Linked DNA regions of Homo sapiens: region 1 is linked to region 2. The links come from fine-mapping of genetic effects on gene expression. A gene starts in region 2. The other region holds a variant in brackets. All regions are shown on one strand. Distances are between the middles of the regions. Region 1 has its middle 51 kb from the start of SLC23A2. Region 2 holds the start of PCNA (proliferating cell nuclear antigen).

Evidence for each region. PIP is the estimated chance that this variant, and not a neighbour inherited with it, causes the effect.
Region 1: its variant is the best candidate, but not a certain one, in a credible set for the expression of PCNA in monocytes (Quach 2016, PIP 0.90).

The regions. Positions count from the first base shown.
Region 1 is chr20:5,049,565-5,054,943 of GRCh38, reverse strand. No RefSeq gene overlaps it. Among named protein-coding and RNA genes, the nearest start is that of SLC23A2, 51 kb to the right of the region's middle. The variant C/A (reference allele first, on the strand shown) is at 2,144.
Region 2 is chr20:5,116,685-5,122,063 of GRCh38, reverse strand. PCNA (proliferating cell nuclear antigen) reads left to right here and starts at 2,106. Exons shown (of 6, transcript NM_182649.2): 1 at 2,106-2,486; 2 at 3,198-3,295; 3 at 3,387-3,454; 4 at 4,400-4,594. The coding sequence starts at 2,266. PCNA-AS1 (PCNA antisense RNA 1) reads right to left here and starts at 2,478. Exons shown (of 1, transcript NR_028370.1): 1 at 2,095-2,478. It overlaps LOC124900464 (small nucleolar RNA SNORA26), which reads left to right and starts at 525; the gene lies at 525-647. RefSeq lists enhancers at 1,573-2,022, 2,153-2,322, 1,771-2,651, 2,763-2,912, 2,652-3,532 and a silencer at 2,513-2,572.

The DNA of each region.
Region 1 (5,379 bases), 67 kb after region 2:
TATCCCAGACTGGATGGCTTAAACAACAGAAACTAATTTTGTCACCATTCTGGAGGCTTGAAGTCCAAGACCAAGGTGTCAGCAGGGTTGGTTTCTCCTCAGGCCTCTTTCCTTGGCTTGTTGAGATGGCAGTCTTCTTCTATAACTTCACATGGTCTTCCCTTTATGTGTGGTGTCCAATTTTCCTCTTTTTTTTTTTTTTTTTTTTTTTGAGGTGGAGTCTCACTTTGGCTGGAGTGCAGTGGCATGGTCTCGGCTTACAACAACCTCCACCTCCCGGGTTCAAGTAATTCTCCTGCCTCAGCCTCTCGAGTAGCTGGGATTACAGGCACCTACCACCAAGCCCAGCTAATTTTTGTATTTTTAGTAGACACGCGGTTTCACCATGTTGGCCAGGCTGGTCTCGAACTCCTGACCTGAAGTGATCCACCTGCCTCAGCCTCCCAAAGTGCTGAGATTAGAGGTGTGAGCCACTGCATCTGGCTTCTTCTTTTTTGTCACTGCAGCCTCGATCTCCAGGACTCAAGTGATTCCCCCACCTCAGCTTCCCAAATAGCTGGTGGGACTACAGGTGCACACCACCACGCCCGGCTAATTTTTATATTTTTTTATGGAATCGGGGTTCTGCTGTGTTGCCCAAGCTGGTCTCGAACTGCTGGGCTCTAGCGATCTGCCCACCTTGACCTCCCAAAGTGCCGGGATTACAGGCATAAGCCGCTGCACCTGGCCTCCATTTTCCTCTTCTAATAAACACATAAGTCATACACATTAGACCCCACCCTAATGACCTCGTTTTAACGTAATTGCCTCTTTGAAGACTCTATCCCCAAATACAGTTACATTTTGAGGTACTGGGGCTTAGAACTTCAACATATGAACTGAATTGGAGGGGGACACAATTCAGCCCATAACAGAGGGTTTTGGACAGAAGAAGGACTTTGTAATGTCTTAACTGACTTTTTTTATAGTAAATAAGAGAAATGTGGCTGTGTCCTGCCCGGCTCCCAGGCAGCCAGAGCTAATGGTTATCTCCCTTGTTCCCTGAACATCGCTGTTATCCTGTTCTTTCTTCAAGGTGCCCAAATTTCATATTGTTTAAACACACATGCTTTACGAATAATTTGTGCAGTTAATGCAACCATCACAGGGTCTTGAGGCAACATACATCTTCAGTTTACGAAGATGACGGGATTAGGAGATTAAAGTAAAGACAAGCATAGGAAATTTTAAGAGTATTGATTGGGGAAGTGATAAATGTCCATGAAATCTTCACAATTTATGTTCAGAGATTGCAGTAAAGACAGGCCTAAGAAATTATGAAAGTATTAATTTGGAGAACTAACAAATGTCCATGAAATCTTCACAATTTATGTTCTTCTGTCACAGCTTCAGCAGGTCCCTCTGTTCAGGGTCCCTGACTTCCCACAACAATAGCAGAGACAGGGTCTTGCTCTGTTGCCCAGGCTGGAGTGCAGTGGCATGATCACAGCTCATTGCAGCCTTGAACTCCTGGCTCAAGCAATCTTTCTGCCTCAACGTCCAAAAGCACTGGAATTACAGGTGCGAGCCCCCATGCCTGGCTGTCATCTGACTTTTTTAAAGGACCACTTAGGCTGTTGGGTAAGAAGGCAAGGGTATCAGAGCAGAGCCCACCAGGAGATGACTGCAATAATCCAGAGGAGAGAAGAGGGTGTCTTGAGTAGGGGGATAGCAGTGATAAGATGCAGATAATAAGGGGGATCAGATCCTGAAATATATATATATACTTTTTTTTGGAGACTGACAGATATCCGTTGAGGTCAGGAGTTCGAGACCAGCCTGGCCAACATGGTGAAACCCCATCTCTACTAAAAATACAAAAATTAGCTGGGCATGGTGGTGGCCACCTGTAATCTCAGCTACTTGGGAGGCTGAGGCAGGAGAATCACTTGAACCCAGGAGGCAGAGGTTGCAGTGAGCCAAGATCATGTCACTGCACTCTGGCCTGGGGGACTGAGGAGACTCCATCTCAAAATCCCAGCTACTCAGGAAGCTGAGGTGTGAGGATCACTTGAGCCCAGGAGGCCAAGACAGCAGTGAACTGAGATTGCACCACTGCATTTCAGTCTGGGTGACAGAAGGAGGCTCTGTCTCAAAACAAAAC[C/A]AAATAAAACACACACACACACACAGACACACACACACACAAATAAAGGCAATGCGTTAATCTGCGTGGAAATGAGAGGCATGTTATTTGGGAATGTGAGGTAGCCATCCAGTGATGTTTAACAGATGTTTTTACAGCCAACTTTCCAGAAAAAAAAATGCATATATATTAATATACACGTTTATTATAAATTTTTCTGATATAAGGGATATATGGTATACAATTTACAGATGATAAAATATATGTATTTCTCCTTTTTTCCTTTTCCTTTTTTTTTTTTTTTTGACGTAATGTCTCACTCTGTTGCCTAGGCTGAAATGCAGTGGTACAGTCTCGGTTCACTGCAGTCTTTTTTTTTGAGACGGAGTTTTACTCTTGTTGCCCAAGCTGAAGAGCAATGGCGCGATCGCGGCTCACCACAACCTCCGCCTCCCAGGTTCAAGCAATTCTCCTGCCTCAGCTTCCTGAGTAGCTGGGATTACAGGCATGCAGCACCATGCCAGGCTAATTTTGTGTTTTTAGTAGAGATGGGGTTTCTCCATATTGGTCAGGCTGGTCTCAAACTCCTGACTTCAGGTGATCCGCCTGCCTTGGCCTCCCAAAGTGCTGGGCCTCCCAAAGTGCTGGGATTACAGGCGTGAGCCACCGCGCCCGGCCTGCAGTCTTGACCTCCTGGGCTTAAGTGATTCTCCCACCTCAGCCTCCTAGTAGCTGGGACTCCAGGCACGCACCACCACACCCAGCTAATTTTTTTTTTCTTTTTCTTTTTGTAGATATGTGGTTTCACTGGTCTGGAACTCCTGGGCTCAAGTGATCTACCCACAGGCGTGGATTACAGGCATGAGCCACCTTGCCCAGCCTAAAACATACATTTATTTCTAATTCCATATAGCAAGTTGATTCTAACGGAATGTTTTCATTGATTTTTTTTTTTTTTGAGACAGAGTTTCACTCTTGTCAACCAGGCTGGAGTGCAATAGAGTAATCTCGGCTCACTGCACTCTCTGCCTCCCAGGTTCAAGCGATCCTTCTGCCTCAGCCTTGCAAACATCTGGGATTAGCCGAGATCGCACTGCTGCACTCCAGTCTGTGCAACTGGAAACCCTGTCTCAAAAAAAAAAAATACTAGTGAAAATGTTGATAAAAGTATGTCATATCTGTAGCTGTAGCCTTTGCATTGGAATAGCATGAACAAACATTTGAGGAAATGTTCTTCCAGTGTTCATAATCTTTTTTTTTCAGCAAAGAAGTTCTCCTACCTCTGATTAACAAGTGAAGTTCTGAAATATATAGCTCTTGTTTTACTTTGTCTTCTTTGATAACATACATGAAAATATCAACCAACATTCATGTTAGATACCAGAGTTCAGCAAAAATCAGTGAAAGTGGCCAGGCGCAATGGCTCATGCCTGTAATCTCAGCACTTTGAGAGGCCGAAGTGGGTGGATCACTTGAGGAGTTCAAGACCAGGCTGGCCAACCTGGTGAAACCCCGTCTCTACTAAAAATACAAAAATTAGCCAGGTGTGTTGGTGTGCACCTGTAATCCCAGCTACTTAGGAAGCTGAGGCAGGAGAATTGCTTGAACCCAGGAGGCAGAGGTTGCAGTGAGCCAAGATCATGCCACTGGACTCCAGTCTGGGCAATAGAGCAAGACTCCATCTCAGAAAAAAATAAAATAAATTAAATTAAATAAATAAGCCCGGTGGGGTGGCTCATATCTGTAACCCCAGCACTTTGGGAGGCCAAGGCAAGCAGATCACAAGGTCAGGAATTCGAGAACAGCCTGGCCAGTATGGTGAAACCCTGTCTCTACTAAAAATACAAAAATTAGCTGGGCGTGGTGGCGGGCACCTGTAGTCCCAGCTACTTGGGAGGCTGAGGCAGGAGAATCGCTTGAACCTGGGAGGTGGAGGTTGCAGTGAACCAAGATCGCACCACTGCACTCCAGCCTGGGCGACAGAGTGAGACTCTGTCATAAATAAATAAATAAATAAATAAATAAATAAATAAATAAATAAAAATAAATATAAATAATAAAAAATGAGAATACAAAAATTAGCTGGGCGTGGTGGTGGGCGCCTGTAATCCCAGCTCGGCAGTGAGCCGAGATTGTGCCACTGCACTCCAGCCTGGGCAACAGAGCAAGACTCAGTCTCAAAAAAAAAAACAAAATTATAAAACAAATAAATAAATAAAAATAATAAAAACATACAAAAATTAGCTGGGCGTGGTGGTGGGCACCTGTAATCCCAGCTCAGGAGTGAGCCAAGATCATGCCATTGCACTCCAGCTTGGGTGACAGAGTGAGACTCTGTCTCAAAAAAAATAAAAAATAAATAAATAAAAATAAAAATAAAATAAAATCTTTCCCAAGCCCAGGGAGCTTATTCTTAGAGAAGGGGGAAGGATAACGGATTGAGCAGGCATTCCAAAAAGTATTACAACACACTTGGTAGACAAGGAAAAACTCTGAGTCCTTTTAAAAGCAAGCCGAACGTCACACATGGAGAGATGACTGAGATGAAAGGACAGCAGGATAAGTTAGAGGAAAGTTGGATGATATCAAAAAGGATTGCAGGAAAACTAAAATTCAAGAATAGCATTAAAATCCATTTTGGAGGATGACCTTTAAAAAAGCTTGCCTGGAATGTGACAAAAAAGAACAGAGTAACAGACGAAGAGGATCATAGCAGGCAGAGAACACAAAGCTGGGTCAGAGACACAGTGGAAATATCCTTTCTCCCTTTTCTTTTCTTGACATTATTTTGGTTTTGTTAGAGGTGAGGCTGGTGTTAGAGAGGCCAAATTTTGACGATGATGAAAAAGCCGAGGGCACTGGGGGGTTTGGGCTCCAACATCCTTATTCCACTGAACCACGACCCTCAACTGCCTATCCCTAGACATTTCATTATGTGAGCAAAATAAACACCTATTTTAAGTCACTGGTGTCTGAGTTTTCTAAAACATGAATTTCAGACAATTCATGTTCCCTGAAATCCCTAGCTGATATGCTAGCATTCATATAATCAGTGTTTCTCAGGCGAAATCAGAACAAAAAGGATTAAGCCTAATAATTGAAACTATAAGAGAATAAAATTATCCTGAGATAAAGAAATATGCAGATCAAAGAGTTTACTGTCTGCTGAATGAAATTAGTGAGAAGATCTACATTTAAACATGATTCACCAAGGCGGGTGGATCACTTGAGGTCAGGAGTCTGAGACCAGCCTGGCC
Region 2 (5,379 bases):
ATTGCGGTTAGCCAAGATCACACCACTGCACTCCAGCCTGGGTGATAGAGTGAGACTCTGTCTCAGAAAAAAAAAAAAGAAAAAGAAAAAGAAAAAAAAAAAGAAATTCTAAGTGATAAAGCATTGTGTAACAGTTTGAGGCTGGGCACAGTGGCTCATGCCTGTAATCTCACACTTTGGGAGACCGATTGGGAAGATTGCTTGAGCCCAGGAGTTGGAGACCAGCCAGAGCGACATAGTGGGACCTTCTCTCTACAAAAACATTTAAAAATTAGCCAGGTACAGTGGTGCACCCCTGTAGTCCCAGCTATTTGGGAGGTGGCAAGAGGATCTCTCGAGCCTAGAAGTTGGAGGTGGCAGTGAGTAGTCATCTTGCCACTGCACTCCAGCCTGGGTGTCAAAGGGAGACTCCCCTCTCTAGAAAATAATAAAAAAAAAAGTTTGACAGTTTTCTTGCTTGTGCTACATAAAATAATGGTACATATTACAATTGAAGGCATCTTATAATAGAAATGCCCTTTCCTGTTCCCTTTTAAGGCTGACCCAGTGCTTTAAGAGGCTGATACAGAAGGGTAAAGTTAAGTCTCCACAAAATCCAGGGAAGAGACTGTGAAACTCATCTTAGAACCTTGTATGGAGTCACAGCTGAACTAGGAAAAAAAAAAAAAAAAAAAAAAGGAAAGAAAGGCATTCCAGAGATAAAGAATAGACTAAGGAGAGGAGATATTTGAAGCCATAATGATTGAGAATATGTCAGACTTGAAATGAATCTTCAGTTCCCTCAACAAGACAAATAAAACTAACTCCATACCTAGATACATGGTAGAAAAACTAAAGAATTCTGCTGACCAAGGTATTAAAAGTAACTAAAGAGAAGTGGTGTGAAGAAAGCAAGAGAGAAACAACAAATCCTGTCCATCCTGTAACAATTGAAAATTTCTGGCTGGGCGTGGTGGCTCACGCCTGTAATCCCAGCACTTTGAGAGGCCGAGGCAGGTGGATCACCTCAGGTCAGGTGTTCAAGACCAGCCTGGCCAACATGGTGAAACCCCGTCTCTACTAAAAAAAAATAATAATAATAATACAAAAATTAGCCGGGGGTGGTGGTAGGCACCTGTAATCCCAGATACTCGGGAGGCTGAGGCAGGAGACTCACTTGAACCTGGGAGGCGGAGGTTGCAATGAGCTGAGATCGCGCCACTGTACTCCAGCCTGGATGACAGAGCAGGACTCCATCTCAAAAAGAAAGGAAAAGAAAAGAAAAAATATTAAATGTGTACGCTCTTTGACTCAGCTGTATTACTTCAAGGAGTTGATATCACCAAAATTGCCTAAGTGCTCAAAGGTGTTTGTAGTTAAACAACAGGAGATTGATAAATTATGTTATATACATGTGATGCTATGTTTTAAAGAGGTACTGATATGATAAAAGATGTACGTGGCATAAAATTAAATGTACTTTATTAAGTACTTTTCCAAGTGTTTACGGAATGAGTGCATTTTTGAAAAAAAAAAAGTGTATTCGAACTTTTAAAAAAGCTTTAAAAGCTTTATACAATGAACGATTGAGTGATTATAAGAGCTGGCGGGGGAATGTTAAGAGGATGATAGGGAGCTAAGTTTAACAGAACAATTCACCTCTTTATCTTGTGACACCTACGAGCGCATCAATTCTGTAATTGAAAAATAAAGTGCATATTTGCAGCAGCTGTACTCTCTTCAGGCTGCAAGGAGGCTTTTCCTCCCGGTAGGCTTGATTTGCATTTCACTTTCACTTTCGTGGCTGGAAACTTTCTACCCACGTAGTGGGAGGCTGAGGAGCCACCATAAAGCTGGGGCTTGACGAGCCGGGACCGGGACCCGATCTCCACATATGCCCGGACTTGTTCTGCGGCCGGGTTCAGGAGTCAAAGAGGCGGGGAGACCTGCGCGACGCTGCCCCGCCCTGCGCCCGCTTCCTCCAATGTATGCTCTAGGGGGCGGGCCTCGCGGGGAGCATGGACACGATTGGCCCTAAAGTCTTCCCCGCAAGGCCGTGGGCTGGACAGCGTGGTGACGTCGCAACGCGGCGCAGGGTGAGAGCGCGCGCTTGCGGACGCGGCGGCATTAAACGGTTGCAGGCGTAGCAGAGTGGTCGTTGTCTTTCTAGGTCTCAGCCGGTCGTCGCGACGTTCGCCCGCTCGCTCTGAGGCTCCTGAAGCCGAAACCAGCTAGACTTTCCTCCTTCCCGCCTGCCTGTAGCGGCGTTGTTGCCACTCCGCCACCATGTTCGAGGCGCGCCTGGTCCAGGGCTCCATCCTCAAGAAGGTGTTGGAGGCACTCAAGGACCTCATCAACGAGGCCTGCTGGGATATTAGCTCCAGCGGTGTAAACCTGCAGAGCATGGACTCGTCCCACGTCTCTTTGGTGCAGCTCACCCTGCGGTCTGAGGGCTTCGACACCTACCGCTGCGACCGCAACCTGGCCATGGGCGTGAACCTCACCAGGTGAGCCTCGCGGCCCCGGGAAGCCGGCCCCGGCCCGCCTGCACCTCCGGTGCTTGGCGGGAGCGCTTTCGAGCCTAGCCCTCATTGGCTGGCGTGGGCCATCCGCGCCTTCTCATTGGCCTGCCACGCAGTGGGGTGGGGCCCAGCTGAGCGCGCGGTTCGGAAAAGCCCGCGCTGGCTGCTGCGCGAACCTGCTTTTTCGCGCCAAAGTCACAAAGCGGGTGGTGGCGGGAAAATCAAGGGTTTTTCCGCAGTGCCAGGAACACTGTTCCAGGGCTCTTTGCTCACTAAATCCTGTTGGCCTTGAATGGACGCTTTAGCTGTGGCTTTCTTGTTTCTGAGACGGTCTCGGTGTGTTGCCCGGGCTGGTCTCCAACTTCTGGGCTCAAGCGATCCTCCCGGCTCAGTCGCGGTTGACTTTAAATGCTTTATAATGCCCTTGCGAGAAATGTGGCAGCCTGTCATCCTACTTAGTGGCAGGAGATTGTTTCTATCCAGAAGGGACACTGCTGGTGGTATTTTAGTATAAATACTGCCAGATGCGTCCCAAAACGTCTGCATTAATAATGGCATCCTCCAGCAGTCCGCTTACCCTCCACCAGTTCTGAGACGGCCTGATGGGTGAGAGTGGTAACCCCTTCTAACCGCGTTCGAAATACAGCCCTTCAGCAGACGGCGTTGATTTTAAAGCATGTGTCTCCTGTCTTCTAGTATGTCCAAAATACTAAAATGCGCCGGCAATGAAGATATCATTACACTAAGGGCCGAAGATAACGCGGATACCTTGGCGCTAGTATTTGAAGCACCAAGTAAGTCGTACCTTTTTACCGAGTCACGAAGCTACAGAAAATCAAAACTCTGTGTCAGTATTTCTCAAAAGCATCTGCTTTCTTTTGGTAGACCAGGAGAAAGTTTCAGACTATGAAATGAAGTTGATGGATTTAGATGTTGAACAACTTGGAATTCCAGTGAGTATCAGTTTCTCATTGTAGAGAGTGCTGTACACAGGCACGATAGTTATGTCATAGAATGTTTGTTTATTTTTACAGACAGGGTCTTGGCTCTGTTGCCCAGGCTGGAGTGCAGTAGTGCCATATAGCTCTCTCTAACCTGGGATTCCTGGGCTCAAGCAGTCCTCTTGCCTTAGTCTCCTAAGTGGCTAGGAAGGACTACGGGCCTGTCCCACCACACCTGGCTAATTTTTTCATTTTTGTGTGTGGGCGTGGGGGCAGTCTTGCCCAGGCTGGTCTGGAACTCCTGGCCTCAAGTGATCCTCCTCCGTCAAGATATGTTAATATAATTTAAGCCTACTTCATAACAACTTTTTCTAGAAATATATCTACTGGTGCATGTTTCAAAGAGAGATTTTAGTATTTGGATAGTTGTTCACCACAAGTCTAAAACTCACAGGTTAAATTTATTGTTTACTGCCAGTTGTCTATTTGCATTAACTTCCATGAACCTCTTTTAAAATTTGTTTCCTTCTAGAATGCTTGCTTTTTATTAAGTGGATTTTAAAGCTGACTTGGAAGAAATTTATCCAGGTTAGGTTTATAAACACCAAAGGAGAGAAGAAATGTTTGAATGTTGAAAATGCCTAATATATTCTCTTGCTTTCTTTTAGAAAGTAGTTAGGCCTGCTTGCGCCATCATGATTTCTGTGCCATACTCTAATGTTCTCTTACTTTATCCCTGGAGGATGAGGAGGAGGAGGCTCTTGTTCCCTGGATGGTGCATTTAATAGCCATTTATTTTTTTGAGTGGAGTTTGTTAAGAAATTACGCAAGTCATATTTTAAAGTAATCAGAAAATATTGATTCTGAGTTGTTTAGGTGTTGCCTTTTAAGAAAGTGAGGGTGCCAAATCATTAAATTTCTAACAATTAACTTTTGGAAAATTTTTGTTCTTAATAGGAACAGGAGTACAGCTGTGTAGTAAAGATGCCTTCTGGTGAATTTGCACGTATATGCCGAGATCTCAGCCATATTGGAGATGCTGTTGTAATTTCCTGTGCAAAAGACGGAGTGAAATTTTCTGCAAGTGGAGAACTTGGAAATGGAAACATTAAATTGTCACAGACAAGTAATGTCGATAAAGAGGAGGAAGCTGTAAGTAGTTTTTAAGTAAAAAGAAAATAGTTTGAAGAGAATTATAATACTGCTTATTAGGTTAATTGCTAAAATTAAAAGTAGACAGAATTGGATCCCAAGTAATTTCTGAAAATTGAGATACTGTTGAAATCTGCGAATGATTTATAAGTGTCATCCAATTTAGAATTATATTTGCAAGAAGGGAATACAAATTCAGCACGTGTACATACCACAGAACAGTGGTTTATGGATCAAGTCCACACCGGCTCTTAAGGGTAGGATTGGGAAGTTAGGCGTATAACCTTTAGCTTTCTGGAGATACTTACTCTCTTACCAAATAATTGAGCATAGGACAGCAGCTCAATAGAAGGATATGGTTAGGAGTAAAAGTCTACCTGTTTGGAGCACTTATGTAATCCTAATATTAGCTTACATGTTGTGGGTCCAATTGGTAGCCCATTTTAAAGGTGGAGAAGCAGGCTGAGCAACCTTAAGTGACAATTTAGCCAAAGTCACAGGCTGTAGGAATCAAAGGTTAAACAGGAAGGAGACTTCTCACTAAGGCTAGAAAGCAGACTCCATGCAACTTTGAGAGTACCTAGAGAGCCCTTGTTTAACCAAAATAGAAAGAACATGGCAAAACCCCATCTCTACTAAAAATATAAAAATTAGCCGGGTGTGGTGGCGCACACCTGTAATCCCAGCTACTTGGAATGCTGAGATGGGAGAATGACTTGAACCGAGGAGGCGGAGGTTGCAGTGAGCCCAGATCATGCCACTCCCCTCCAGCCTGGGTGACAGAG